Regions from separate parts of the Homo sapiens genome. Here region 2 is linked to region 1. Evidence: fine-mapped expression QTL. Tissue or cell type: whole blood. Region 1 holds a variant in brackets; the other region holds the start of a gene. All regions are shown on one strand. Distances are between the middles of the regions.

What was found. PIP is the estimated chance that this variant, and not a neighbour inherited with it, causes the effect.
Region 2: it holds the start of ARSA, and the variant in region 1 is fine-mapped to the expression of ARSA in whole blood (TOPMed, PIP above 0.99).

The regions. Positions count from the first base shown.
Region 1 is chr22:50,546,782-50,554,881 of GRCh38, reverse strand. It overlaps KLHDC7B (kelch domain containing 7B), which reads right to left. Exons shown (of 1, transcript NM_138433.5): 1 at 3,859-8,100. The coding sequence ends at 4,931. It overlaps SYCE3 (synaptonemal complex central element protein 3), which reads left to right. Exons shown (of 3, transcript NM_001123225.3): 3 at 3,480-3,770. The coding sequence ends at 3,637. KLHDC7B-DT (KLHDC7B divergent transcript) reads left to right here and starts at 5,935. Exons shown (of 4, transcript NR_199716.1): 1 at 5,935-5,986. RefSeq lists silencers at 5,788-5,947, 6,028-6,457. The variant G/A (reference allele first, on the strand shown) is at 3,569.
Region 2 is chr22:50,624,175-50,632,274 of GRCh38, reverse strand. ARSA (arylsulfatase A) reads left to right here and starts at 4,123. Exons shown (of 8, transcript NM_000487.6): 1 at 4,123-4,719; 2 at 4,869-5,109; 3 at 5,223-5,441; 4 at 5,515-5,684; 5 at 5,997-6,121; 6 at 6,212-6,339; 7 at 6,594-6,696; 8 at 6,811-8,100. The coding sequence starts at 4,496. The coding sequence ends at 7,130. It overlaps LOC124905149 (a long non-coding RNA gene), which reads right to left and starts at 781. Exons shown (of 2, transcript XR_007068161.1): 1 at 1-781. RefSeq lists a silencer at 4,039-4,228 and an enhancer at 5,163-5,945.

The DNA.
Region 1 (8,100 bases):
CAAAGTGCTGGGATTACAGGCGTAAACCACCGCGCCTGGCCTTGTATTTTTAATAGAGACAGGGTTTCACCATGTTGGCCAGGATAGTCTTGATCTCCTGACCTTGTGATCTGCCCGCCTCAGCCTCCCAAAGTCCTGGGATTACAGGTGTGAGCCACCGCGCCTGGCCTTTTTTTTTTTTTTTTTTTGAGACGGAGTCTTGCTCTGTCGTCCAGGCTTGAATGCAATGATGTGATCTCAGCTCACTGCAACCTCCGCCTCTCGGGTTCAAGTGATTCCCCTGCCTCAGCCTCCTGGGTAGGTGGGATTACAGGCGCCTGCCACCATGCCCAGCTAATTTTTGTATTTTTAGTAGAGACGAAGTTTCACCATTTTGGCCAGGCTGGTCTCAAACTCCTAACCTCAGGTGATCCACCTGCCTTGGCCTCCTGAAGTGCTGGGATTACACGCGTGAGCCACCACGCCCAGCCAGCAAACAGTTTTATGTAGTGAAAAATCTATCAATATTTTCCTTTCTGATTTATTGCCATTATTTTGACACCTAGAAAGTCTTTCCTCAATCTGAGATCAGTGAAATATTTAGTTGTATTTTCTTCTACTTTTCTCCGTATTCCTTTTTAACATTTAATCCTAACCCATCTGGCATGCCAAATGACCTACGCTGCGTATTGCTTTTTTTTTTTTTTTGAGACAGAGTCGCGCTCTGTTGCCCAGGCTGGAGTGCAGTGGCACAATCTCGGCTCACTGCAAGCTCTGCCTCCCGGGTTCACGCCATTCTCCTGCCTCAGCCTCCCGAGTAGCTGGGACTACAGGTGCCCGCCACCATGCATGGCTAATTTTTTTTGTATTTTTAGTAGAGATGGAGTTTCCCCGTGTTAGCCAGGATGGTCTCAATCTCTTGACCTCATAATCTGCCTGCCTTGGCCTCCCGAAGTGCTGGGATTACAGGAATGAGCCACCGCACCCAGCCGCATATTGCATTTTTATATAAATCTGCTACAGGCTGGGCACGGTGGCTCACACCTGTAAACCCAGCACTTTGGGAAGCCGAGGCAGGAGGATCACAAGGTCAGGAGTTTGAGACCAGCCTGGGCAATATGGTGAAACTCCATCTCTAATAAAAATACAAAAATTAGCTGGGCGTGTTGGTGGATGCCTGGAATCCCAGCTACTCAGGAGGCTGAGGCAGGAGAATCACTTGAACCCAGGAGACGGAACTTGCAGTGAGCCGAGATCATACCATTGCACTGCAGCCTGGGTGACGGAGCGAGACTCTCTCTTCTGTGATAGTCCCTGGGCATAGAGGGAGGGTGTTTGTATCGTTTTAGCAGCAGGGCATTTGCAGTGTAACAGATCCGGGCCCAGTGCGATGCCAAATGAGGGAGATTCATATCTTTGGTCATCTGCAGAATACCATGATTTTAGTTTCCTTGGAAGCAAAATGAGGGGAGATAAGTTTGACAATTATAAGAGTAATTTGTGCATTAGAACAGAAAAAGGAACCTATTCCATTAGGGCACCAACGAAAAATATGAGGAAAAGTTACAATCTGGTCCTCTCTAGAGGATTATTGTAGCCAAGAAACAATGATTTAATTTGCACTCAAAAAAACGTTATGGCTGGGCGCAGTGGCCTGTAATCCCAGCACTTTGGGATTTTATTTATTTATTTATTTATTTTGAGACAGGGTCATACTCTGTCACCCAAACTGGAGTGCAGTAGTGCAATCTTGGCTCACTGCAACCTCCACCTCCCAGGCTCAAGGGATCCTTTTTTTCATCTCAGCCTCCTGAGTAGTTGCAACTACAGGTGCACACCACCATGCCCAGCTAAATTTTGTATTTTCTGTAAAGACAGGGTTTCAACATGTTGCCCAGTCTGATCTCAAACTTCTGAGCTCAAGTGATCCACCCACCTCAGCCTCCCAAAGTGCTGGGATTATAGGTACCAGCCACCTTGCCCGGCCAGCCACCTTCTTGTATCCTCACATAGAGCCTCACATATCCTTGCATAGAGTGAGAGTGAGCTCTTGTGTCTCTTCTTTAAGGGGTGCTAATCCCATTCAGGAGGGTCTACCCTTAGGACCTAATCATCTCCAAAAGACCCGACCTCCTAATACCATCACGTCGGGGGTTAGGATTTCAACAGGTGAATGTGGGAGGGACACATTCAGTCCATAACATGTGTGCCAGGCAGTTTACATATATCACCCATTTAATTCTCACAGTAAGCCATGAGATTGGTAGGGTCTCCAAAGATGAGGAGACTGAGATTTATGTATATATAACCTCCACCTTCTGGGTTCAAGCGATTCTCCTGCCTCAGCCTCTCTAGTAGCTGGGACTACAGGCACCCACCACCACACCCGGCTAATTTTTATATTTTTAGTAGAGATGGGCCAGGAACACTGGCCATGTTGGCCAGGATGGTCTCAATCTCTTGATCTCGTGATCTACCCCCCTTGGCCTCCCAAAGTGCTGGGATTACAGGCGTGAGCCACCGCACCCGGCCGAGATTGATACATTGCAGACACTTGTTCCAGGTCACAGAGTCGTCAGGTGGGGAGCTGGGAGGCGTACTCTGCTCTGGCCCCAGGTCCCTGCTGCACCTGCTGTCCAGGTAGTCTGCGGCCTCCCTGCACCGGAACGATCTGGGATGCTTGTGAGGATTCCACAAAGAGGAATTTTAAGGGGATGTGTTTGCTATGTACAGTTGGTTGTCATGCAGAGGGGAGATGACCTTTGTTCTGTATAGTTGCAGAGGGCTGAACCACACCAGCCGGTGGACTATGCAGAGAAAAAGTTGGAGGTGGGATTTCTGCACACACTTCTTTGAGTTCACACAAGAAGCATGTGTTCACCTATAGGCCCAGGGAATGCTACCTTCGAGTTGCTGTCAGAGGGAAAGAGCAAGAGAGCCCATCAGTGCATTGGTAGATGGTCAAGGACACCTTCCCAAGAGGAGAAGCCCCAGGCCTGGGCCTCAACGAAAGCATAGAGGTGCCCAGGTGGAGGTGGGCAGGCATCCCAGGCCACTGAACATAAGGTGACATGAGGTTTGGGTCTTGCAGGACTGGAAACAATCAACTCTACCTGAGTGTGTGAGCTTGGGTGGATGACTCCTTAGGGGTCACCTGCAGCCATTGGCTGTGAACTGCTTGTAGGTAAGGAGCTGCGGTTTGCTCTAATTCTCCTCACATTTCGTATCAGACCAGCCTCTAGTTTTTTACATCATGTCTGGTGTATCCAGAAGTTATGCCTTGCATGAGACTAGGAAGCGTCACTATGGATGTTTGTAGGGAGTTTTTATGAGCCTGTAACAAGTAGCCTACCAGCTGTCTCTCCCTAGAGTAATTGGGTGCCTCAGCAGGATCTGGGCCTCCAGATGCTGAGCCCAGCTGGAGGCATCTGACCCTTCTGGGGCACCCCAGAGCTGCAGCCCCTCCCTGTGGCCTGACCAGTCCTGTCTGCTTGTTGCAGTGCAGGCGACCTGGATGGCCTATGACATGGTGGTGATGCGCACCAACCCTACGCTGGCCGAGTCCATGCGTCGGCTGGAGGATGCCTTC[G/A]TCAACTGCAAGGAGGAGATGGAGAAGAACTGGCAAGAGCTGCTGCATGAGACCAAGCAAAGGCTGTAGGCCCCACTGGCCCACCACAGCTGCCATGCCACCCTCTGCCCGTATGAAGAGGTCACTGGGGGATGGAGCTGGCACCCACATGAATAGCTGTATGCACTGTACTTGTTTCTTAATAAACTTATTTTTAAGCACAGCCCGAGGACCTCTTCTCTCCTGTGCCATGATCCACCCAGCTGCATATCAAACCTTGTGAACAAAACACAACAAGTGCAAGCTGCAGGTGCTTTCGGTGAATTAAAATGTATTTGGTGCCAGTGGTGCTGAACATAGAATAAAAAACAGAAAAAGGGCCCAGACAGGGACATCCAGGCTGGAGGTTGGAGTGGAGCACAGTCAGATGTATTCACTTTTCTAGCATGGGTTTCAAAGTGCGTAAGGGGAGAAAACGCATCATGGATTGTGCTGTGCATCCTGGACACCGTGCGAGGTGCTCATAGCTGTGATCTTGTCTCCCACAACTCTCTTGGGTGACAGACGTCCACTGTCCACATTTTATAGACAAGGAGAAAGGGAAGTCAAATGTCTCGTCCAAGTCTACACAGCTAAAAAGGGGCAGAACTAGGGTGACGCTCAGGCCTCATTTAGAGATCGGGGGTTGGCGAGAAGTGGGGTGGGCTTCTGGAGGGGCTGGGAGAGCCCCACAAGGCTGCAGAGGGTGGTGAGCCCGGAGTGGGCCTGGCCTGGTGTGGGCTGGGGGTATGGGCAGGAGCTGCAGACAGCAGGGCTGCACCAGCGGACCAGTTTCAGAGGCAAGGGTTCTAGGCCCTTGAGAATCCACAGTGCCAAACAGACCCAGATAGCTACGGGGTTGGTACCTGGGGAGGCCTTAGGACAGGCAGAAAGTCCCAGAGGCGAGGGCGTTGCCTGGGGACGTTTTTGCTCCCTGTCCTGCTGACAGAGCATAGGAAGTGTGAATGTTTTCTACCCCCTCCTCTCTCGGCTCAGCAGAGCTCCAGCGAGCCAAGTCCTTGTCTGTGGAGACGCATCAGTCCCTGGCTCTAGGGAATAGGGAGTCCCACAGACAGGGGGGTGTCAGCAAGCTGAGAGGGTCTGTAAGTAGGTACGGAATTGAGTCAGGAAACAGTCTGGGTGTGGAGTGAGGGGCAGAAAGAGGCTGAGGGAGTCTGGGCTTCAAAATAATCGACAACCTTTAAAGCAGAAGGGGAAAGTTGTCCAGAAACAAGAGCAGGAAGTTCCGATCCCAGCCCCTTCCCTGAGCCCCGGCCTCTCAGGCCCATCCCAGGAGGGTCTCCCTGGAGAGCAGCGAAGCAGCTTTGGTTCTCTGCCTGCCACTCAGAGTGAGGTCTGCAGCCGGTCCTCAGGGGGCAGAGTCAGGATGAATGGACTGAGGACCCCGGTGCTCCCCAAGGGGAAGGGCTGCAGCTCCTTGGCCTGGAACTGGGCAGTCCCCCCAGAGACCGTGAAGGTGGCAGTGACCTGGGGGTTGAGGCAGTAAATGGTGTTGCCCAGGGTGGTGCAGTGCAGTGGGGCGGGGGCGGGCAGGGGCAGGGAGGCAGCCCTGCTCCAGGAGCCGGTCACTGTGTTGTAGCGCATCACGGCGGCGCCCACGCCCCGCAGCAGGTCGAAGCGGTACAGGAAGCCCCCCAGTGCCACGATGTCGCTGGAACGCCGGTGGCTGGCACTGTATGGGCACTCGTCCCAAGCATCCTTCACGGGGCTGTACCTGAGCAGGCGGTAGAAGAGGTGACCCCCGGTGACGTAGATGTCCCCACGGCAGGCCACAGCCTCGTGGGCCACAGGGAAGGTGCCTGCGGGGAGTGGCGCGCGTGGGGTCCAGGCGTCTGTTCGCGGGTCGTAGCACTCCATGCTGTACAGGCATTCGCCACCGATGGCATAGAGCAGCCCGTCCAGGGCCACCAGCTTGAGCTGGGCTCGGGCCTGCTGCATGGGCCGAACCTGGCTCCAGATGTTGGTCAGAGGGTTGTAGCAGAAGACCTCGTTGGAGCAGACGGCCTTGGCACCGGAGCCACGGATGCCCCCCGCCAGAAACAGGTAGTTGTGCATGGTGCAGAGACCGCAGCCCCGAAGCGGGGCCTCCTCGGGCACCTGGGTCAGGGGCCGCCAGGTGTTCTCCCGGGGGTTGAACACATGCAGGTGCGCAGGTAGAGGCAGGGACACAGGGGCCGCCGCAGGAGGCTCCTCGCCACGAGGGCCCCTGGGGAGCCCTGAGCGGCCCCCCTGGTAGAGGCTGGGCAGTACGAGGACGCCCAGCACCGCCCGGCCCCGGCCGGTCCGCAGGCTGAGGATGCGCTCGCGGTCGGCCGCGCTCAGCCGGCGGTAGAGGCACGGGTCTCCCAGCACTCGCAGCAGGTTGTCGCTCATCAGCGCGTAGGTCTCCTGCGCCAGGCCGGGCTCTCCGTGCTGCTGGGCAAAGGCCAGCACGTCCAGGCAACTGCCCAGGTCCAGCCGCCGCCGCAGGGCTGCCGCCGTGGCGGGCTCCAGGGCCCGGGAGCTGGGCTTCCGGGGCCCCTCCACCACCCCCCAACCCCCGGGCCTCTGCAGAAACACCATGAGCTTCCGGGCCTCCTCCTGCTTTTCCGTGAGCGCCCCGCTGCGGCCGGCAGGGCTGCCCCCCTCCCCCGGCGCCTCCCCTTGAGGGTCCCCCGAGGCGGCCGGCCTGACCTCCTGCTCCGAGCTCGGGGCGATTTCGCACCTGCTGCGTTTCCGTAGCTGGGGTACCGGCTGTGAGCGCCTCGCAGAGGAGGAGGCCGCGGGGCCAGGCGGCCTCTGCGCGGGGGGCTGTGCGGGGCCCCTGGGCATCGCGGCTTGGGGCAGCGGGTCTAGACTTTTCTCCCTGGTTCCCTCTCCTCTTAGGCCTGGGGGAGGGTCTGGGCTGGGCGATCCGTTGGTCTCGGAGCTTCTTGGCTGTGGCTGACCTCCAGCCTCAACCAGGCCCCCTGTACCTGTCCCTATGACTGTCCCCACTGAAGAAGAGGGGCCGTGTCTGTCCTCAGAGTGTGTGGAAGTGCTGGGACCCACGGGGCTCCCGGGAACCGCCCTCGGGACACTCCCTTGGGGCCTGTCTTGCCTGGGGAAGGGGTGGCTTCTAAGAACCATGGCAATAAGGTTTCCCCAGCTGGCTGAGACCTGCCCCTCCTGGTAGCGCCTGGGGAGAGCCACACTCTCCTGAGGCTTTGACCCGTCAGCTGGGGCAGGGGATGCGGCTGGGGTTGGGGTTGGGGCTGAGGTGGGGGCTGGGGCAGGGGATGCGGCTGGGGTTGGGGCTGGAGTTGGAGCTGGGCTTAGGGCTGGGGTTGGGACTGGGGTTAGGGCTGGGGATGCGGCTGGGGTTAGGGCTGGAGTTGGAGCTGGGCTTAGGGCTGGGGTTGGGACTGGGGTTAGGGCTGGGGATGGGGGTGTGAGGGTTGGGACTGGGACTGGGGCTGGGGCTGGAGTTGCGGCTGCAGCTGGACTTGGGGCTGGGGCTGGGGTTGAAGTTGGAGCTGAGGTTGGAGCTGGGGCTGGGGCTGAGGTGGGGGATGAGGTTGAGGTGGTGGCTGAGGTTGGTGCTGAGCTGGGGGATGAAGCCAGGGCTGGGGCTAGGACTGAGGCTGGAGCTGAAGTTAAGACTTGGGCTGAGGCTGAACTTGGGGCTGGCGCCGCTCTGAGATTTTCGCCCACGGAAGGATCCTGGGTAACCTCCAGGGGCAAAAAGTCTGAAGGAGAGGGGAGAGTCAGGGCTTCAGGTGGGAACCCCGGGCCGGGAGCTGCGGGCGGGGAGGCGGAGCGCGGGCGAGGCTCACGGCTCCGGGAGGGCGCGCGGCTGTGGCCGGCTGCAGCCGGCTTTGCTTGCTCCGGGGGCCGGGTGGGCCCCAGGTCAGCGGCAGGACTGTTATCTCGGGAGCTGTCAGCCCCGGCCTCGCCGGCATCGTAGGCCCCTGTGGCACCCGGCCCTTGGGACGAGAGTGGGCGACCTTGAGGCGGACTCTCTAGCCAGGGGCGCGTGGAGTCTGGGGCTGGGCCAAAGCTCCGGGTGCCCGGGACCTCCCTGCTGACCCAGGGCCAGCCTCCTCCGGGGGCAGGGACCCCCGAGGCCTCCCTGCTCCAGCCACCCTTGGCCCCAGAGCCTTCCGTCTGAGACCCAGGCTGCAGGGCGCGGGGAGCGGGCAGCGCCGGGAGTGCGGGCTCCTGGGCGAGTGGGGGTCCTGTGGGGAGGCCGCGCGCGTGGGCGTCCAGGGCGGCGGCCCCGTCCACCGCGTCCCACACGCTCCCCGCGGCGCCCAGGCGGAGCGGGTCCAGTTTCCGGGGGCGGCGGGCTCTGTCTCCCGAGCCAGCGTCCATCCGCCGCCGCCGGCCCCGGCCTCTCCCCATCGAGCCCGAGGGCCCCGCGCCCGCCTGCCAGGGGCCAGTGTCCTGTTGCCCCGCGGGGCCTGCGGCCTGGCGAGAGGACGCCCTGACACCACCTGTCTCCGCCTCCGCTTCGCTGCCAGGGCTCCGAGGAG
Region 2 (8,100 bases), 77 kb before region 1:
ATTTATTCCAATAGCAACTCAATCCAAGAAGCCCCTTCATGGAAAGCCCAAAAGATTATTTTCCAGGTTTAGAGAGGGCATAGAAGAGGAGGTTCCAATGATGCCCCCAAAATTCACTCCCAGGAATAGGCAAAGACAGCAAAAGACTCTTGTTCCCAGAGACAGTTAAGGAACGTGTTTGTACATACAGTGCCTCCAGTAACACACAATCTGTCAGGGGCTGCCAGTCACAGACCCATTAACCTGTAACACAGGGTAGGCCTGTTGGGATTGGGCTTTCTGAGGACTGACCAGGCAACAAACATTGGGATGACAAAAGCCCCTTATGGATGGGCCTGAGGAGAGCAAAAACCACCTGGCGACCATCAAACATCAAACAGGCCCTCCGAGGCAAAACTCCTTATCTGGGGAAAATCAAAAGTAACTAAACCTCCCTATTATCTAAAGCAGGCATCTGGTTCCAGATTTCTTCCCCCAAAAAACGTGTAAGTAACTATAATTTCTATGTGTCTCCAGAATACCATGACGAAACTCACTGTACAACCGTCGCTGACATTAAGGCACCAAAATTACTATAAATGTAATCATTTATCATGACTTACGTGGCTAATATGGTCCAAATTACTGTTAAGCCTCCACTTTAAGGCCTATAAATGCCCTTAAGGAGAAATCCACCCGGCGTACTCAGTCCTCTTGCTGAGGCACCTCATTGCACTCTTCTGCAGCATTCTAATAAACTTTCTTTCTTTTCTTTTTTTTTCTTTTTTTTTTTTTTGAGATGGAGTTTCACTCTTGTTGCCCAGGCTGGAGTGCAATGGTATGATCTCAGCTCACCACAACCTCCATCTCCCAGGTTCAAGCGATTCTCCTGCCTCAGCCTCCCAAGTAGCTGGGAATACAGGCTCCCGACACCATGCCCAGCTAATTTTTTGTATTTTTAGTAGAGATGGGGTTTCATCATGTTGGCCAGGCTGGTCTTGAACTCCTGCCCTCAGGTGATCCACCTGCCTCAGCATCCCAAAGTGCTGGGATTACAGGCGTGAGCCACCGTGCCCGGCAAACTTTCTTTTTTCTTTTTTTTTTTGAGACAGTCTTGCTCTGTCTCAGCTCACTGCAACCTCCGCCTCCCAGGTTCAAGCAATTCTCCTGCCTCAGCCTTCCAAGTAGCTGGGATTACAGCCACGCACCACCACACCTGGCTAAGTTTTATACTTTCAGTAGAGACAGGGTTTCTCCATGTTGGCCAGGCTGGTCTCAAACTCCTGACCTCAGGTGATCCACCCACCTTGGACTTCCAAAGTGCTGAGAGTACAAGCATGAGCCACTATGCCCGGCCAAACTTTCCTTTTTCAAACCTATTGTCGGTAAACTCTTTTTACCAACCCGCAAGTTGACCACCACTCCCAGTGCCGGGGCTCTGACAGCTCGCCTGGCAGGGACTTCTTAAGACAAACTAAAAGCTTGACACATTCAGAACAAAAACGGTGCTGCTTAAAATATTAAATGTCTTGGGTTCCCAACCATTTTCAGACTGACCACAAAATGTGACCTGCGAGTCACTACCTCGGATTGGCAGAGGCCAAGAGAGTGCTCCTGAGGTAGGAGGTGGGACTTAGTTGACCCAGTTGAGGATTGGCTAAAACAGGGTTGGGGCAATAGCAGCTTTCAGTCAGATATGCCCGCCACTGTGCCATGTCAGTTTACCATTGCCATGGCAACACCCAGGAGTTGCCACCCCTTTCCATGGCAATGACCCAATGATGACTACTCCTTCCCTAGAAACTTCTGCATAAACCATCCTTTAATCTACATGCAATCAAAAGTGCGTATAAATGTGACTGCAAAACTGCCCTGAGCTGCTACTCTCAGCCTACGGGGTGGCCCTGCTCTGCAGGAGCAGTCACAGAGCTCTAACGCCACCTGTTCAATAAAGCTGTTTTCTTCTACCTCTGGCTTGTCTTTGAATTCTTTCCTGGGCAAAGCCAAAACCCTCACTGGCTAAGCTCCACTCTGGGGTCTGCCTGGCCTGCATCATTCCCACTCGCTCACAACTCAAGCTTTCAAGGACATCAAAAGAGAGGAGAATCTCATCCAGTTTTCAGTTCAGGGACCCACAGCAAAGTCTGTCTAACTAGACGCATCCGATCAGAGCTGCAAAACTGACTAGCCTGCAGGACGGCCCCAAGACGGGGTTTACAGGGGTTTTAGGCCTGTGTTCTACCCTCTTTATGACAGAAAAACACAGAAAGACAAGAATGAAAGACGACTATTTCTGGGGAAAAAAAGCAATCAAACAATATGAATACAAAACTAATCACATAAATACATTTCTCTCATTAAAACTTTGAAGAGGAAAACAAGGTAAACAGACATTTTTACCGTCGGCTTGACAAGATTCCAGAGAGGCCGGGAGCCTGGCTGCTAAGACCTTCTTACCCTTCTTTCTGCCAGCTTGTCGGCTCCTGGGTTCCCCTGACGGAGGCTCCCAGGAGAGTGACTTTAGTTATCCTACCGACTGCACCAAAACTGTAGGAGCCTAGAGAAAAACTTTTCTGCATTCTGAGTTCACAGAAAATCAACTGACAAAAGCCAGGTTAGTAAGAAAAAAGGCATACAGATTTATTCATGCACACAGGGAGAACCAGAGTGATGACCCCAACCTCCCAATGGGGTTCGGAAGCTTATATACCATCTTGAGGTTACAGAAAGAACATGGGCTCAAAGTATGGCCACAGTTTATGGTGGAAAATCAGGTGACCAGTGGCAAGACCGGTTACAGGAGGGAGAGCAGAGGAGGCCTGGCTAGCAAAGGTGGCCTTGTTCTACAGATGAAACCTCACAGGTAGCAGCCCTGAGAGAGAACAGATGGTGAATGTTCCCTTCAGGCCTTTAAAGGCGTCAGACTGTTACTCTTCCCAGATCAGGCAAGGAGGGCCTCAGAGGAGGCCTGGCCGCATCAGTGTAGATTCTCTCCACAGATGCAAATCTCCCCCACAAAAGACAGCTTTTCAGCTATTCTTCTATTTCCAGTCCTTCTGAGTAACTGTCTTGAACCGTGTCAAGGAAATATATTTGGAGGTGACATATTGTGTTTTCCTTCAAGATCAAAAAGGTTAAGTCCAAGGCTGCCCAACGAGGGAGCGAGGACCCAATCACGTTGTCCTCAGATGAGTTTTTCCCCAGCAGCGTAACCCTGCAACAGGCCAGACTGGACCCCAGACACACATTCCACACCACACCACGCCTCCACCACCACACGCACACAACAGACACACCCTAAACACCAGACACACACACACACCTCAACCACCGCAAACACACATACGCCACACCTCTAACACCACACACACCCAACACCACACACATACGTGCCTCAAACACTACACACACCTCAACCACCATACACCTCAACCACACACACCCCTCAAACACCAAACACACCCCTCAACCACACACACACACCCCTCAAACACCACACACCCACCTCAAACACCACACACACATATCCCTCAAACACTACAAAAACACACACACACACCTCAAACACCACACATGCACACACACCTGAAACACCACACACCTGCCTCAAACACTCCACACACACCACACACAGACACGTACACAGCCCCCCGCACCCAGCCACAGCTTACACGCACACAGACACGCGTACGCAGGAGAAAGGGTGTCAAAGCTTTTGCTAGTCGTGAAGGAAGAGCCCGCAGTCCATGGGGCTGCACGGTTTTCCCTGCCATTTGCTCATTCACCGGGTGCCCATAACGCTCCGCGCTCAGGTCTCTTACAGGAGGGCCCGAGTCTCCCAGTACCGGAGGTCTGGGGGCGCACGAGCCGCTCCTCCTCTGGAGAAGCTCCGGACCGAGAGGACACCGGACACTGCGCAGCGCCGAGCCCCGCGCGCAGCCCGGGACGCCTCAGCCAGGGCCGACCGCGCAGAGGAAGCTCCCAGAGCCCGTTTCAAGACCGCAGCCAACAGCCTCAGGCGCACACGGCGGCCTCGGAGCGAGCACGCGCAGCAACGCCCCTCGCCCCGGCCCGCCCCCGGCCCCGCCCCCGGCCCCGCCCCCGGCCCCGCCCCGCAAGGGTCACAGGTCACGGGGCGGGGCCGAGGCGGAAGCGCCCGCAGCCCGGTACCGGCTCCTCCTGGGCTCCCTCTAGCGCCTTCCCCCCGGCCCGACTCCGCTGGTCAGCGCCAAGTGACTTACGCCCCCGACCCTGAGCCCGGACCGCTAGGCGAGGAGGATCAGATCTCCGCTCGAGAATCTGAAGGTGCCCTGGTCCTGGAGGAGTTCCGTCCCAGCCCGCGGTCTCCCGGTACTGTCGGGCCCCGGCCCTCTGGAGCTTCAGGAGGCGGCCGTCAGGGTCGGGGAGTATTTGGGTCCGGGGTCTCAGGGAAGGGCGGCGCCTGGGTCTGCGGTATCGGAAAGAGCCTGCTGGAGCCAAGTAGCCCTCCCTCTCTTGGGACAGACCCCTCGGTCCCATGTCCATGGGGGCACCGCGGTCCCTCCTCCTGGCCCTGGCTGCTGGCCTGGCCGTTGCCCGTCCGCCCAACATCGTGCTGATCTTTGCCGACGACCTCGGCTATGGGGACCTGGGCTGCTATGGGCACCCCAGCTCTACCACTCCCAACCTGGACCAGCTGGCGGCGGGAGGGCTGCGGTTCACAGACTTCTACGTGCCTGTGTCTCTGTGCACACCCTCTAGGTAAAGAGGGGGCCGCGCCTCTTCCCCGCCCCGACCCTCCATCCCTTTCCTCCCAATGGATTGCAGGGGGGCGGGAAAAACGTCTGTCTCTCTCTCTAGGGAAGGCCACATTTCTGTCTGTCTCAGGGACTCTGTGACTTGTCCCGCAGGGCCGCCCTCCTGACCGGCCGGCTCCCGGTTCGGATGGGCATGTACCCTGGCGTCCTGGTGCCCAGCTCCCGGGGGGGCCTGCCCCTGGAGGAGGTGACCGTGGCCGAAGTCCTGGCTGCCCGAGGCTACCTCACAGGAATGGCCGGCAAGTGGCACCTTGGGGTGGGGCCTGAGGGGGCCTTCCTGCCCCCCCATCAGGGCTTCCATCGATTTCTAGGCATCCCGTACTCCCACGACCAGGTAGGAACCACCCGGGCCCTCAGCCACCCTCCCACCTCCCAAAGTCCCCCAGCCCTTGATGCTCCCGCAGCCCCACCTGCCAGCCCAGCCCTCACGGCAGCTGCCCGCCTCAGGGCCCCTGCCAGAACCTGACCTGCTTCCCGCCGGCCACTCCTTGCGACGGTGGCTGTGACCAGGGCCTGGTCCCCATCCCACTGTTGGCCAACCTGTCCGTGGAGGCGCAGCCCCCCTGGCTGCCCGGACTAGAGGCCCGCTACATGGCTTTCGCCCATGACCTCATGGCCGACGCCCAGCGCCAGGATCGCCCCTTCTTCCTGTACTATGCCTCTCACGTAAGTGATCTTGGCCCAACCCCCTGGCTGCCCGTGACCCCTACCCAGTGCTAACTCCAGTCTTTGCCCCCAGCACACCCACTACCCTCAGTTCAGTGGGCAGAGCTTTGCAGAGCGTTCAGGCCGCGGGCCATTTGGGGACTCCCTGATGGAGCTGGATGCAGCTGTGGGGACCCTGATGACAGCCATAGGGGACCTGGGGCTGCTTGAAGAGACGCTGGTCATCTTCACTGCAGACAATGGGTATGCCAGCAGGGCAGCTGGGTGCTCCGGCCCTGTCACGGGCCAGGGCCCTGGAGGCCTTGCAGTTCAGCTGCTTGCCAAGAACATAGTGGGTGAGGGGGTGCCAGGAGATGCTGGCCACGTTGCAGGGGCCCAAGGTGTAGTCAGGAGACACAGTGCACAGAGAGCTGGTCTTGGTAGGCCTGGGAGGTGCCGGGCTCATGCTGGGCACCTCCGGGCAAGCTTTGTGACTTAGAGGTGTGGGGCCACTGGTCACCCTCGGTGGCTCAGAGGCTGTGGCTCCATGGCTCATGAGCGCCTCCTGTGTCCCAGACCTGAGACCATGCGTATGTCCCGAGGCGGCTGCTCCGGTCTCTTGCGGTGTGGAAAGGGAACGACCTACGAGGGCGGTGTCCGAGAGCCTGCCTTGGCCTTCTGGCCAGGTCATATCGCTCCCGGTCAGTCCGCAGGCCCTCTCCTTGGAACCCTGGCCCCACCACCCCAACCTTGATGGCGAACTGAGTGACTGACCAGCCTCCTGCCCCCAGGCGTGACCCACGAGCTGGCCAGCTCCCTGGACCTGCTGCCTACCCTGGCAGCCCTGGCTGGGGCCCCACTGCCCAATGTCACCTTGGATGGCTTTGACCTCAGCCCCCTGCTGCTGGGCACAGGCAAGGTAGGGCCGGTGACCCCTGATCCCAGATCCTTGGCCCCTGTCCTGGCCTTCCCCTGGGGTGAGTGTGGGCAGTGCCTGAGAGTCTGTGCCTCAGTGCCTCCTGCACTGAGTGGCATCCAAGTGGCGCCACCTCTCAGGTTCCTGGGTGGGCAAGAAGCGGTGCACGTCCAGGGCCTCCCACCAGGGCTGGCAGCCCCAGGTATGTGCAGTGCTTGGGGCCTGCCCCGCCCCGTGACCCCTGACTCTGCCCCCAGAGCCCTCGGCAGTCTCTCTTCTTCTACCCGTCCTACCCAGACGAGGTCCGTGGGGTTTTTGCTGTGCGGACTGGAAAGTACAAGGCTCACTTCTTCACCCAGGGTAACCCCTCCCCGTGGATCCCTCCCCCCGACCTGCTGACCCCTCCCCGGAGCCCTAGATCCCTGGCCCCTCCTCTCGCCCTTGCCCTGTGCACAGAATTGGCCCCCTCCCCAGGCTCTGCCCACAGTGATACCACTGCAGACCCTGCCTGCCACGCCTCCAGCTCTCTGACTGCTCATGAGCCCCCGCTGCTCTATGACCTGTCCAAGGACCCTGGTGAGAACTACAACCTGCTGGGGGGTGTGGCCGGGGCCACCCCAGAGGTGCTGCAAGCCCTGAAACAGCTTCAGCTGCTCAAGGCCCAGTTAGACGCAGCTGTGACCTTCGGCCCCAGCCAGGTGGCCCGGGGCGAGGACCCCGCCCTGCAGATCTGCTGTCATCCTGGCTGCACCCCCCGCCCAGCTTGCTGCCATTGCCCAGATCCCCATGCCTGAGGGCCCCTCGGCTGGCCTGGGCATGTGATGGCTCCTCACTGGGAGCCTGTGGGGGAGGCTCAGGTGTCTGGAGGGGGTTTGTGCCTGATAACGTAATAACACCAGTGGAGACTTGCAGATGTGACAATTCGTCCAATCCTGGGGTAATGCTGTGTGCTGGTGCCGGTCCCCTGTGGTACGAATGAGGAAACTGAGGTGCAGAGAGGTTCAGGACTTGTACAAGATCACCCAGCCAGAAAGAGGTTGGGCTGGGATTTGAACCCTGGTGTCGTGGCTCTGGAAGCTGCCCTGGCGCCTTGGTGATCTGCGTGGGTCAGTGCACACAGGCACACGTCAGCCTCAAGGACATGGGCACATCTGTTCACAGGAGCAGCGCCACGTGCCTTTGAGTGCCAGGAACGGGGTGGGAGGGTGGGAGGGTGTGAGGGCCAGAAGACTCAGAAGATGCAAAGTGCCTGAGAGAGACGGGATATTCCCCCAGAAGAAGCATTCTTAGAGACACAGGCACTGGACCTCCTTGGTTCTTATAAGAAACCTGTCTGAAGCTGGGTGATGAGTTGCACACTCCAGGTGGGGCTAAGGGGCCTGGAGCCCCTGCTGGCTCCTAGGAAGGCACAGCAGCAGGCCCTGAGACGGCTCCTCTGGGGCCCCTCCACCCTCCCAGGCCTCTGCATTTCACCTGTGCCCACACTTCTGTCTCCTGCCTTCACCTTTTGACCCACTACTAACGATTCTCCACCCAGCAGACAAAGTGATCTCTTAAAAATATCTGTTGGCTGGGCACGGTGGCTCACGCCTGTAATCCCAGCACTTTAGGAAGCCGAGGCGGGTGGATCACCTGAGGTCGGGAGTTCGAGACCAGCCTGACCAACATGGAGAAACCCCATCTCTACTAAAAATACAAAATTAGCCAGGTGTAGTGGTGCATCCCTGTAATCCCAGCTACTTGGGAGTCTGAGGCTGGAGAATC